Homo sapiens: one gene and its partners. The protein of the gene in region 1 purifies or fractionates together with the protein of each later gene. This does not show direct contact. Each region holds a gene or a part of one and is shown in the gene's direction. Other genes may lie near its edges.

Evidence for each region.
Region 2: the proteins of GPR52 (region 1) and TLCD4 purify together in Homo sapiens (affinity purification with mass spectrometry; 3 studies listed by BioGRID and IntAct, with this or other methods). This does not show direct contact.
Region 3: the proteins of GPR52 (region 1) and ERMP1 purify together in Homo sapiens (affinity purification with mass spectrometry; 3 studies listed by BioGRID and IntAct, with this or other methods). This does not show direct contact.
Region 4: the proteins of GPR52 (region 1) and LGALS3 purify together in Homo sapiens (affinity purification with mass spectrometry; 3 studies listed by BioGRID and IntAct, with this or other methods). This does not show direct contact.

The regions. Positions count from the first base shown.
Region 1 is NC_000001.11:174,446,668-174,450,045, forward strand, and holds GPR52 (G-protein coupled receptor 52), read left to right. Parts: upstream 1-1,296; 5' UTR 1,297-1,444; coding exon 1,445-2,530; 3' UTR 2,531-2,878; downstream 2,879-3,378.
Region 2 is NC_000001.11:95,193,855-95,197,354, forward strand, and holds part of TLCD4 (TLC domain-containing protein 4), read left to right. Parts: 3' UTR 1-3,500.
Region 3 is NC_000009.12:5,826,618-5,830,117, reverse strand, and holds part of ERMP1 (endoplasmic reticulum metallopeptidase 1), read left to right. Parts: intron 1-3,500. UniProt on the Homo sapiens protein: Within the ovary, required for the organization of somatic cells and oocytes into discrete follicular structures.
Region 4 is NC_000014.9:55,135,752-55,139,251, forward strand, and holds part of LGALS3 (galectin-3), read left to right. Parts: intron 1-1,231; exon of another isoform or gene 1,232-1,618; coding exon of another isoform or gene 1,619-1,622; coding exon 1,623-1,640; exon of another isoform or gene 1,641-2,293; coding exon 2,294-2,617; intron 2,618-3,500. UniProt on the Homo sapiens protein: Galactose-specific lectin which binds IgE. May mediate with the alpha-3, beta-1 integrin the stimulation by CSPG4 of endothelial cells migration.

The DNA.
Region 1 (3,378 bases):
AACCTACCTAATGGCCCCTGTGTTAATTGAGCACTTGCTCAAAATAGAGTACAGAAAAATAGAAGAGGCATTTTTTAACATATGGCTGCTACATAACTGCAAATGTAATAAACAAGGTAATTTTCCACTTTCAGAAGATATAGTTGAAGTAATGATTTAATGTGTTAAATCATCTACTGAAAATAGAAAAGGTATAGCAACATAGAACATGAAGCCTATTAGAAATACCTAAGTAATAAATAATGGCAGCATTTCTGGTCAAATAAGCTCGGAGTATATTGGAAAGTTTTATTGTCTAACTTTATATTTACATATATATGTGAGATATGGGTATACAGTTGCAAAGGTGAGAAATAACTGTGAGCTACATATTTTATTATCATGCTCCATTATAAGGAAGGTGGTATATGAAATAACAAATGTTATTTTAAGTTATAGATGCCAAATTAATAGCAAAAATAATTCATTTTGAAAAGGAAGAGGTATAAGTTACGTTGCTGTTAGTACCACCAGTAACTGTAATGGATTAAAACTGCTTTCATCTAAATGCTTTAAAAATGCATGCAGAATTAAAACTTCAGAAGTTTATTACATTTTGCCAGGTGTTAATTCATTAATTCATTGTATATTCTCTTTTCTATTGGAAAATACTTTTTTCTCATGAGAGTTATAGGGCAATCTGGAGTCTGTTTGTTACCTCTATTCTGCCCATGTAGAGATGAATCTTTTCAAATTAACTTTGATAGAGTTGTTTTTCTTAGATTTTAGAAAAATGAGAAATAGGTTATAAATTTGACCCCCCAACATCAATCCCTGAACTAAGCCCAAAGACACTCTTTGCCACAATGAACTTTTTCTTAGCTTTTCAACCAAATTTGAGATCTTAAATTATTTAAAATCTAAAATATGAATGCATTTTTCATCATAGATAAAGCAGGAAGCCTGAGACAGTTTCAGAGTTTTTCTTTTCTCATTCTTTCCAGTTGCTCCCTAAGAAACTGCCTCTCTTAGGAGAACAGCCCACAGAAGCTTTTCTTCCTTTGGCAATTCATTTTTTTTCTTTTTACAGATTTAATTTTTCATAGTGCAAGATAATAAGAAGTCTATTTTCTCTAGAAGTGCCTTATGTCTGCAAAAAGTTCTTTGAGGGCACCAGAGGAAACTAATTAGTGACCTCTTTTCACCTCCTTTCTAGCTTATCCCCTTCTCTCCACCCCTTACCGCCCCCCCCCCACCCCCCCGCCCGAAAGCTGAGGTGTGTCACTGCTGAACTGAGGCTGGTGAAGAGACTTGAGCACTCTCTGGGACTCTCAGCTGTGACAGAAGCACTGACACTGTCTACTGAAGCAGGTTCTGAAACACTCATGTGCGGTGTTTAACAGATGCTGGGCAGGGCATCTGCTTGCTGTAGCCAAGTCTGCAGGTGTCTTTAAATTTCCAAGCCATGAATGAATCCAGGTGGACTGAATGGAGGATCCTGAACATGAGCAGTGGCATTGTGAATGTGTCCGAGCGTCACTCCTGCCCACTTGGATTTGGCCACTACAGTGTGGTGGATGTCTGCATCTTCGAGACAGTGGTTATTGTGTTGCTGACATTTCTGATCATTGCTGGGAATCTAACAGTTATCTTTGTCTTTCATTGTGCTCCACTGTTACATCATTATACTACCAGCTATTTCATTCAGACGATGGCATATGCTGATCTTTTCGTTGGAGTTAGCTGCTTGGTTCCTACTCTGTCACTTCTCCACTACTCCACAGGTGTCCACGAGTCATTGACTTGCCAGGTTTTTGGATATATCATCTCAGTTCTAAAAAGTGTTTCTATGGCATGTCTTGCTTGCATCAGTGTGGATCGTTATCTTGCAATAACCAAGCCTCTTTCCTACAATCAACTGGTCACCCCTTGTCGCTTGAGAATTTGCATTATTTTGATCTGGATCTACTCCTGCCTAATTTTCTTGCCTTCCTTTTTTGGCTGGGGGAAACCTGGTTACCATGGTGACATTTTTGAATGGTGTGCCACGTCTTGGCTCACCAGTGCCTATTTTACTGGCTTTATTGTTTGTTTACTTTATGCTCCTGCTGCCTTTGTTGTCTGCTTCACTTACTTCCACATTTTCAAAATTTGCCGTCAGCACACCAAAGAGATAAATGACCGAAGAGCCCGATTCCCTAGTCATGAGGTAGATTCTTCCAGAGAGACTGGACACAGCCCTGACCGTCGCTACGCCATGGTTTTGTTTAGGATAACCAGTGTATTTTATATGCTGTGGCTCCCCTATATAATTTACTTTCTTCTAGAAAGCTCCCGGGTCTTGGACAATCCAACTCTGTCCTTCTTAACAACCTGGCTTGCAATAAGTAATAGTTTTTGTAACTGTGTAATATACAGCCTCTCCAACAGCGTTTTCCGGCTAGGCCTCCGAAGACTGTCTGAGACAATGTGCACATCCTGTATGTGTGTGAAGGATCAGGAAGCACAAGAACCCAAACCTAGGAAACGGGCTAATTCTTGCTCCATTTGAAGAGAGCTACATAGTAAATCAAATGTAATCTGACAGTGGTTTTGGATCATATTCTAGATTCATCTGGAAATTTGCCATCAGAGAAATATTTACTTGAATAGTTGACTGTAAAATGAAGTATGAGACTAAAGGTTTCTCTCTTTTTTTTTCTTTTTCATGGAAGAAACTAAAGGGAAGGATGTATAGAGGGTTAGCTCATGAAATAATTATAGCATGTGAGTATTAGTGTGCAGTAATAGGAAAAATTAAGCACTGAGATGAAAAAGAATATCTCAAATCTTCTGCAGGACATGAGCAAGCCCCTTGGCTCAGCATTTCTGTCTTTCTGTCTGACTGTACCCTGCCTCTGTCTTTCTCATTTTGTCTATGTTTCTCTCACTCTTTGTGGAAGTTATTACTTACATAAACTGCCCTTTGTAGAAAAGTGCTACATATTATATATGTGGTAAAGTATAATCTTTTGCATCAAAGTGTACCTTTAATCACACTAATCTATAATCCATAAGTGATCTCTTCATGGAGGATGCACAGTAAGCATTGCATTTTATTATTTGCCAAACAACCCCTTTGCTTGTGTTTTTATAATGTTCTCTGCAGCACAGTTTTTCTGCTATAAACAAATAGAAACAGTATTTTTGTTTCTTCTGGGTAAAATGACATTTGCTTTTCCCTGGTTTCCTAACAGTCTCCTGTTTTTTTTCTCTCTTTTTCTTGATCTGCATCCATTGGTACCTTACTTTAGAAGTGTCTTAGCTATTGAAAGAATCTACTGTATAGAGCATCCATGATGTTAAATAATGTATTTCTTCCAGCAAAGCAATCTGGTAGCTTATTAAATATTTTTAATG
Region 2 (3,500 bases), about 79 Mb from region 1:
AAGCGGTTTTATCTTGTTCTTACCTTTTTGCAGGAAAAGTGGCTTTAAAAAAATTTATATAATAAAACTATTTTGGAAATTCATTCTTTTAGAAAGAGACCTTGAGATAAATATTTTTTGACTCTGGATATTTCTATAGTTCTGAACACAGATTTTAAACCCACTATCAAAATGAAAACAATATAAAGCTATATTAGTGAGTCTCCATGTAGCAGTTTGTTTTTATAGTTACTGTTTCATGCTTAAAACTTCATTCTTACTTTCATTAATGTTACCCTTCACTGGTATAGCCACTCACTAAATAAGTATATTTAAAACATCAAAATTTTGAACTAAAGTTTGTGATTCTCTTATTCAGCAATCCTTATCTTATGCTGGCTGCATGAGTTAATTCAACATCCAGATTAAATATCCTGAAGTAGGTTCTATATATTTCCTCATACAACAGACATGGAATGGAAATGCCACTAGAAACTGCCCTGCTACTTTTAAGTCTGACCTTTGCAGGAGGTACACTTTGCTGTTCTATGATTGTATTCACCTACCTAAAATACAAATGAAGACAGAACATATCATTTACTGCACGATGAATTTTTCATTTATTAAATGAAAAACGTTTGCTAGACATTTTAAATATTAAGTATTTTGACTACACGGATTAATTTAAATGATTCTATCAGGCATTCTGATATTTAACAACTCTATTAAAATATTTATAGAAAAATAAAAGCAAATTGATATAAATTTTTGAGCAATTCTATTTTTGTAGAAAAAAGATAACCTGTAATTATAAAGATGTTTTTTGAATGTGTAGTATCCTAGAAAATAAAAGTTCTTGTGAAACTTAAAAAATGAATGAAAACCAACTAATAGCATGCAAGATCATAGATCCTGCATTAAATTTTTATTTGTGAAAATTTGAAAATTATGAGCTATAACTTATAAAGTTTGCCTTCTTATGTCTAAAATCTTTTAAAGGATTATTTGCATTTATGTAAAACTGGAAATGAAGTTATATATGAGTGCAAAGAAATTGACTTCTGCTCAAATATGTGTTGATACCCTACAGTAAATTGAATTAAATTTTTATCCCAACTGTTTGATTTTATTATTTCATGGACTAGCCTTACGTTAAGTGAAATACTATTTATGTTGTTACCACCCCTAAGAGTGACTCTGATATATTATGGATGACCCAGGACGGTCTTAAAGGTCTAGTTTTAAAAACTGCCTAGTTTGTAAGTATTTGAATCCAGTTCTTTTCTAAATTTTAATAATTTGACTCAAAATTTTTGCTACAGGGTCAACTTTTAAATTGTATATTTCCTCTGAGGCACACTGGGCATTTGGAGAATGGTTCTTCACTGGTGTAGAGAGCCAGGTTTACTGTTGGTTGCACCATCTGTTATCAGGCATGCAGAAACATTTTTCTTCTGGAGAAACAGAGGGGAAGGTGTTGTTACAGTGTACATGTTTCCTCTGTGTCGTTTTTAAGGGAAATAAACATGTTCCAAAAGATGCTGTTAAAATAAATATTTGAACACGTTTTCTGTTTCTAGGTTGCTCTTAATTCCAAACATTTAAATAAATGTGCATTTGAATAGCTTTAGGTGGTTTAGTCTATTAGCTGAAATGGAAAAGTTCATGTATTGACATCATCAATAATACTTCATAAAGGTTTATGTATTTTTATGTGTTTGGATTCCATAAGAAGTTGAACTTAGATAATTTTATCAAGAGTAGCACAGTGTTTCTCAGGTGCGAGCCAGCATACAGCGAGACCCTTCATGTGTCTCTGGATGCACATATATCTTCCCAACCTTAAACACAGCTCATTGAAATACATTAAAGCTACTGAAAGTGAGTTCTGATGCAAAACACATGTGAGGTGTGTAGGAACAATGAAAAGCTAGAGGATCTGGAGTTAGAGGAGGCATTGAGAGTGCTTTTCCCTTAAACGCCGTGATAGTCCTCCCTTGATCTAGAAGTATTCTCTTTGAATCCTTCCATCTCTTCCTCCTGGTACACCAGATGACTTCATCAGCATCTCCCTCTTTTATGCTAACACCTTTCGCTGTCAACTTTTGAGACCTCCCCATGTATCTATAAGCTTCCCAGTCTCTTATGGCAAATTTAAAAGTTTACAAATAGGTTCTCTCATTGAAAAAAAGCATTGTAGTAAAGTTTAAAGTGGAGCTCAGACAAATCATGACTTATTAAGAGACTACAGGAAGCCATTCAGCATTTAATAATAACTGTTTACAACATGAGGCAAAGCTAATAATGTTATGGTTTTATTAAGAGATCTGTCATCTCTGTTTTTCTTAAACTGGTTTAACAGTCAGAGCTTTGTAATGTGTTTCAGCTGAAGATTTATTATAGGCTTGTAAATTATCTAAATGTTCTTTTTAGACCCCATGACAGGAGCACAGAGGAACTGAGATAACTCTGTGTTATGAGAGGGTGGATGCTGGCTTGTGCCAAAATTATTTTAGAGTCCTGCTCTTTAGGGAAAACTTTGCTATGGTAATGTTTCTTTGAAAACAAATTTACCAGCAACTGCGTTACTTGGTGTTTTCCAAAGTACAACATCCAAGGCTTGAACCTTACCCGTTTCTAGGCCAGACTAGGCCAGCCTCTAGTTTTGATAATAATTCATACCTTTATTGGAATATATTTTGGATAGCAGTGAAGAATTGAAAGCAGCTCCTAAAGATTGGTTTGTTTGCTTTGAAAATGTTTACACTTATTCACTCTAAGCAGTGGACCATTTTGATATCAGGCCCTATACATAAGACCAAAACCAGAAATATTTCTAAATCTCAAAGATTTATAAGTACAGTACCTCTGGCTGAAAACTCGTTAAACATCTTTGGATATTTTTTCTTTATATCTTTATGTAATTATTTCTGTAATTAAGTGTACATTAGGGTTATTTGCTACTTAACAAGCCTAAAGGTATAGCTGTATATAGAATGTGCTCTGTGTTTTTCTGTTTCCTGCTTGGTTTGTTTCTGGTATGACTATGTCTACTTTTTATTTAAGGAATTTTGTGTAGATAATACTCTCACTAACTTGTAAATAGGATAAGTTATGAGATTTTTTGGTATTAGAATTTGTAATAATAATGACTTTTAGATTTTATTTGAAAAAGCTACTTGGAAAGCAGTAAATAGAACTATAGTGATATATATAGATACATAGATATATACTTTTTTCTGAGAATGTATAATATATAATTGTCAAAGATTTTTGGAAGTCTTTCAAAATATACTTAATACCATTTTGAGAACATACCTTCTAATTTATTTCCATAAGGCTGAAGAACTTTTATTTACAAAATGTAAGACTAGATAATGTATGAATCAGTGTTACTAGGACTTATCAGTACTTAAAATAGCAACTTGGCATTCTTTATTTTGTTTCCTGGTTGTTTTATTTGGAGGGATAATAAATGTCTAAGTTATTTCCATTAAAATTTTGAAATGTTTGTATACTTT
Region 3 (3,500 bases), on another chromosome or scaffold:
ATCTCTTCTAGCAGATTCTGTTGACCTATAAAGTGAGAATTTTGCTCCACTGAGGGTGCCATACTGTTAAAGTACCTAATTAATGTGTAAATCTTTCTCTGAAAATCATTTGGCAAAATAGAATACTTGCATTTAGGACAGTGCCTGATGCAGTATATATTTGTCAAATGAATGGGAATCCCCTAAATTGAACTTCCATTTATTAAAATATTTATTTTTCAGAAAATTGTATTCAGTGGTTAAAGGGATTGTAAATAGGGATGGAAAATAGCATTTACAATGGCATAGCATTTTAGTGGTAGACAAGACCTGAGATGGCATCTGGCTGAACCCCTCATTTGATACAGGAGTACATTTAGCTAGCTGGTCATCGCTGATCAGAGACAAAACTAGGATAAGATGCTGGATTTCCTGGCCAGTCAGTTCTTTCAGCTACATTTGAAAGGAAAAAGAATATTAGGGTGTAATTAATACTCCCTTTTGCAAATTGCTTAACTTCTTAGTTTCTCATCTGTGTAATGGAGAAAATAATAGTACTTTCCTAATAGTGTTGCTTGGAGGATTAAAAATAAGTAAAACGCTAAAATAGTACCTGGCATGGAAAGTGATTTTTAAAAGTTTTTATTAACTCTTATGTAATATTAACACTTCTGGATTACTCGAACTTATAGCAGGCCAAATTTGAACGTCTAGAGTTATACAAAATGTAAGTAAAATTTATTTGCTTGATAAAATGATTCATATTAGAATATCTTCATTTAGAAAGCTTGACAATTGCGTTTAGAATGTAACTTGCATTTTCAAAAATCAGTATACACACGTTTGTTAAATAAGCCAGAAGTACCTTCGTGTGCTGCTGGGGTAACCAGTGGTTTAGTGTTTTTTTTTTTTTTTTTTTGGCTGGGGGGCCAAGTCTCACTCTGTCACCAGGCTGGCATGCAGTGGCACAATCTTGGCTCACTGCATCCTCTGCCTCCCGGGTTTAAGCGATTCTCCTACTGTGCCACCACACTCGGCTGATTTTTTTTGTATTTTTGGCAGCGACAGGGTTTCACCATGTTGGCCAGGCTGGTCTTGAACTCCTGACCTCAAGTGATCCGCCTACCTCAGTCTCCCAAATTTCTGAGATTATAGGTGTGAGCCACTGTGCCCGGCCACCAGTGGTTTTTTTATGTCCATTTCAAAGCAGTAATAAATGTCACTCTTTGCCCACTATTATGATGCTTAAATTCTGGGAAGCGGCAAATAAACACCATGGTTGCTTAAGAACATTATATAAGAAGGCTGTATATACAAGAATTAGCAGCAAATGTAGGGACAAAAGAAAAAAGTTTCCCCTCTACCCTTCATAGTTCTTAGCTGAGTGGACCCCTGTAACAAAAGACAGGTTAAAAAGAGAAAAACCAAATAGAAGTTTATTAACACATGCACTTCATGTACATGGGAGATACTCAAGGAAAATGAGTACATCTCAAAGAGGTGGCTTAGAAATCTGGCTTATGTAGCATCTTCAACCAAACAATACATTTTTAGAGAAGTGACAAAGGAAAAGGACCTTGAGTCTCGAGGGGTGGCAAATTGAAGGAAGGCAAATAAATGGTAGAGAAAGGTTAGTTAGTAAAGTGTTATATAGATTCCTTTTGTGCTGTTGCCAGGCCACCAAAAGTTTAAAGTTGTCTTTCTTGATCAACCTTTGTACTTCCTGGTGGAAAGGGGAAGTGGGGACACCTTGGTAAATGTATACCCTGCTTTTAGGCAAACAAGGGGAGGGCAGAGAGCTTTTTTGTATAGTACCTGCTTCTCAGTTGCCTTCAGCTCAAAATAATCCGTATGTCAAAGTGACATATTTTGGAGTGCATATTCAGTTACTCTTTACAAACATAGTGCCAAATGTTACAGATTGTATATGTGGAGTCTAATAATTAAAGGCCAGCATTTTTGTGAGCCATTAGAACCCACTTTTTATTATTATGTTTTAAATAATAGAGACAGGTTCTCACTTTGTTGCCCAGGCTGGTCTTGAACTCCTTAAGTGATTATTCTACCTCATCCTCCCAAAGTGCTGGGATTACAGGTGGGAACCACTGTGCCTGGCCTAGAACGTACATTCATTCATTCATTCACTTATTCATTTATTTATGAGGCGGAGTCTCACTCTGTCGCCCAGGCTAGAGTGCAGTGGCGCGATCTCGGCTCACTGCAAGCTCTGCCTCCCGGGTTCACGCCATTCTCTTGCCTCAGCCTCCCGAGTAGCTGGGACTATAGGCGCCCACCACCATGCCTTGCGAATTTTTTTTTTTTTTGAGACGGAGTCTCGCTCTCGCCCACGCCAGACTGCAGTGGCGCTATCTCTGCTCACTGCAACCTCCGCCTCCCGGGTTCATGCCATTCTCCTGCCTCAGCCTCGCTATTTTTTTGTTAGTAGAGATGGGGTTTCACTGTGTTAGCCAGGATGGTCTCAATCTCCTGACCTCGTGATCTGCCTGCCTTGGCCTCCCAAAGTGCTGGGATTACAGGTGTGAGCCACTGCGCCTGGCCCTAGAACCTACTTTTAACTAAAATTTTATAGGAATACCCTTAGCAACAATCTCAAGGCAATTTCTGTCAATAATAAATTGTTAAAAATAGTGTTTCACACATTCATCAAATAGATTAAGCTTGTCCAACCTGCAGTCCTGGGTAGCTTTGAATGTGGCCCAATACAAATTCATAAACTTTCTCAAAACGTGAGATTTTTTTTTCAATTTTTATTTTATTTTTTAGCTCATCAGTGATTGTTAGTGTTAGTGTCTTTTATATGTGGCCCAAGACAGTTCTTCTCTTAATGTGGCCCATGGAAGCCAAAAGATTGGACACCCCTGAAATAGACTATCACCTAAATCCTTTTAGTGGATGGCCTAATTGAAGCACTTCTTTTTTCTTTTTTTCTTTTTAAGTTCTCATCTGTGTATCTAGGACTCAGGAATTGATACCAATTAGGAGTAATGTTATCCACAGAAAAGCCTTAATTATCTTCTTGAGTTTGCTGTGTGGTTCCAGGTCGTTGGTAGAAGAGGCATTGAGTTATTTTGGGGGTGGCTTCAATTTCAAGGTTAATTCTAAATGGAAAGGGATGTCAGCTAACCACCTAGCCCTTATAGATACTGTCCTCTTAACTTTCCTTCCCTTTCTTAAAGATATTTGACTCTTCTGTAGTTCTCTTTTAACGCACCAGAACCATTAAAATAAGGGAAGCTGAATGGACAGTTTAACTTTTTAATCAACCCTGTATAGATACCTTTCAATTTCCCTTTCTCTCTTTTTGAATAAAGAAACATTTTATTGTTTGCTCTCTATTTTAAAGTAACTCACAGTGTCAAATTAAAAAGAGAGTTTATTTCATTAGGTTTTTGGAAGGTGACACATTTTGCTAATAGCAGCATTTTCTATTTGATAGTAATTAAATGATTATTACTTTGTTTCACTTCGATTGAAATACAAACCAGTAATCACCACCAAGA
Region 4 (3,500 bases), on another chromosome or scaffold:
ACAGGGTTTTGCCATATTGCCCAGGCTAGTCTTGAACTCTTGGGCTCAAGCGATTTGCCCACCTTGGCCTCCCAGTGTGCTGGGATTACAGGCATGAGCCACCACACCCAGCCAATATCTTGCATTTGAATCAAGTAGTGGACATTTATTGGATCCCTTGGGGCCGATGCCATTTCTAAAAGTGATTGAGTAAATATCACAGGTGGGCAAATCAAAGAGAAGGATATTCTGGTTGTTTCAAGGTCCAGGTAATTCAGGCCATGGCACAGGTGATCCTGAGCTTAGGAAGAACTCACCCATGCCTCAGGGGCCCAGCTGCCCTCCTCCCCTCACTGCTGGAGCACCTACAACAGCTGTGAAGCATCTTGTGCTTTTGGAGCCTTGACATGGGAAGGAACAGGAGAAAGCAGGACTGATGTCTCCAGACCACCCCTTAGGCAAACCCTCTTTGGTAGCATCTTAGACCCAAATATTTTTTTCCTTCACGTCACGTTGCCTGAATTTTTTCACCTTAGTTTGTTGTACTGCCAAATATTTTATTTGGAATAACAAGTACCTTTGAAAAAAAAAAAGCACATACAAACTTCAGCTCCCCTTTGAGGCTTAGCTCCAACAGCACCTTTCCTTTCCTTCTTAGAAGTAAGCTTTCTGGGTTTGAATTCCTACAGCACACATTCTGACTCATAGCATCTGTGACTTGTTATTTCACATTTCCATGGATGCATCTCATCTGCCTTGCTGCACTGTAGGCCCTTCGGCTTTTATTTTTTTTTAATTCTTAATCTTTATGGGTACATAGCAGGTATATATATTTATGGCATACGTTAGATGTTTTGACACAGGTATGCAATGCCTAATAATCACATCATGGAAAATGGGGTATCCCTCTTCTCATTTATTTGTGTTACAAACAATCCAGTTATACTTTTAGTTATTTTCAAACGTACAATGAAATTATTGACTATAGTCACCCTGCTGTGCTGTCAAATACCCGGCCTTATTCATTCATTATAACTATTTTTGTCACCCATTAACTATCCCCACCTCCCTCCCACCCTCCCTCACTACCTTTCCCAGCCTCTGGTAACCATCCTTCTATTCTATATCTCTGTGGGCTCAATTGTTTTGAGTTTTAGATCCTGTGGCCCCTTTGACCATGCAGATCATGGCCTATTCATCTTCACACCTAGATAGGAGCCTGCGCAGTGCCTGGCCAGGAGCAGGCATAAGTGTGTGCAAATAGAGGAATAAATAGCAGGGCAGCAACTATGTCTGGAGGTCATTGTCTTTCCTGTCTCAGTAGTAATCAATCACTGCTTATCTTCAAAAACCCAGAGTAGGGGATGGGGCAGTTAGTGGGGACAGAGGGCAGATGGGTAAGATTCAGAGCACAGGCTAGTGTGACGGAAGTTTAAACTTGTGAGTTAAATAGGGTTTGGCAATCTAGCTGGATAGCATCCCTGCCCCTTGAAGAGATGTTTTTGTGGCGCCACACTACTGACTTAGGCATAATGCCTAGAGATGGATTAGAACTGCACAATGAACTAGTGGTGAGGTTCAGTTTAATGGAAATTGGTGAAAGCTTTTAGGATAAAATGATAATCTTTGTTTCTTTCAGGAAAATGGCAGACAATTTTTCGGTAAGTGTTTTATGCCTGTTTCTTCCCCTTGATCAGCTCCACATGGTTGAGGGTTGGGGGTTTTGTTTTTACCATGACTTTCCCTTTTCACTCTCCCACTGCGTGGCTTCCCCTGGACTCATTTGTCCAATGAGGGCTTGCAAGCTGGAGCCTTGTTTTTCCAGCAGCAGATTTGGGAAGAAAGCCAGGCAGAGCGAGGCCTGGGACTCACTCACAGTAACCCTTTCACCAAAAGGCCCAGGGCGGAAGGGAGTGGACTCTGCCGGCAGGAGCTGAGAAATCCTCTGAGTAGCGGGAAGTGCGGTACAGTCTGGGCATTCTGATGTTTGTGATTGTTTTTCTCACGGTGATGAAAAAGTATGTGCTATAAGTAGAGGAGCGCTAACTCCTGACTTGAGCTAATTATGAAAATGCAGCCCTCCCTGATCTGAGACGTTGGGAGGCAAGAATAAAGTGAAAAAGTATATGTAATCCCAACATCTAATTTTAGTCTTAGAAACTCAAACTATTAATAAGTGGAAAAAGTTTAATGATATGCATGTAATGCCTTTGCCATATTCCTCTCCTTCTTAGATCACATATTCCTATTTTCCTGAAAATTCTGCTTTTGAGAATGCTTTCTGTCCCGTAATTGTGTATGTCTTTCTTTCCAGCTCCATGATGCGTTATCTGGGTCTGGAAACCCAAACCCTCAAGGATGGCCTGGCGCATGGGGGAACCAGCCTGCTGGGGCAGGGGGCTACCCAGGGGCTTCCTATCCTGGGGCCTACCCCGGGCAGGCACCCCCAGGGGCTTATCCTGGACAGGCACCTCCAGGCGCCTACCCTGGAGCACCTGGAGCTTATCCCGGAGCACCTGCACCTGGAGTCTACCCAGGGCCACCCAGCGGCCCTGGGGCCTACCCATCTTCTGGACAGCCAAGTGCCACCGGAGCCTACCCTGCCACTGGCCCCTATGGCGCCCCTGCTGGGCCACTGGTGAGATGGCATTCCTTCTTTCATGTACTTGACATGCAGAGGGCTTCAGGGAGACCCTGAGCTTTAAAGCTGCTGCTTAGAGCCACTTCTCAAGGGCCAGCCATGGGTGTATGTTGGTAGAGTCAAAAAATTAAGTGTTCATATTGAGCTTATTGTGTGTGGTTAGTATAAACAGAAGGTAATGAGTATTTTGAAGGCACTGATAAAACTGCTTATGAATATAAATCAAGATTGTAGTAATGGAGAACATTTTGGTTATTATTAACACTTACGGAGTACATGTCAATAGTATGCATCTACATGGATAATCTCATTTAACCCCATTACCACGCTATAAGATACTGTTAATAACCCCATTTCACACATGGGGAAATGGGGCAATAGAGAAGTGATATAATTTGTCCAGGGTCATTGAGCAAACATGTAGAGGAACCAGGGTAATCTGGTTTTGAAAAACCTTCTAAAGATAATTTTGTGATCTAAGGGTTGAATTTTCACGCAAATTAAAATATGTCATAGCAAGTGAATTCTAAGTGTAAAACATAACTCCATGGGGGATCCAGATACATCTCAGCCACAGGATCCTTCCTTTCCAGATTTATAATCTAGTTGGATGATAAAACATATAATAAATATGAGGAAAGAGCTAAGTACCAGTATGGGATTAGACCATTTCAGGACTATGCAGAAGACAGCACAAGGTAGCATTGTCTCCTTTTAGGTCAGTTTAGAGTAGAAAGACTTGGGGGAGTGGGTGGCATTGAGAGGGCCTATACCAGAGATGGTTAGTCAGTTGCAGAGAGAGGGAGACATGAAGGCTGTGGAAAGGAACAGGCAGATGTAAGAGAGATTACAGAGGAAGAACCCCCAGAATCTACTGATT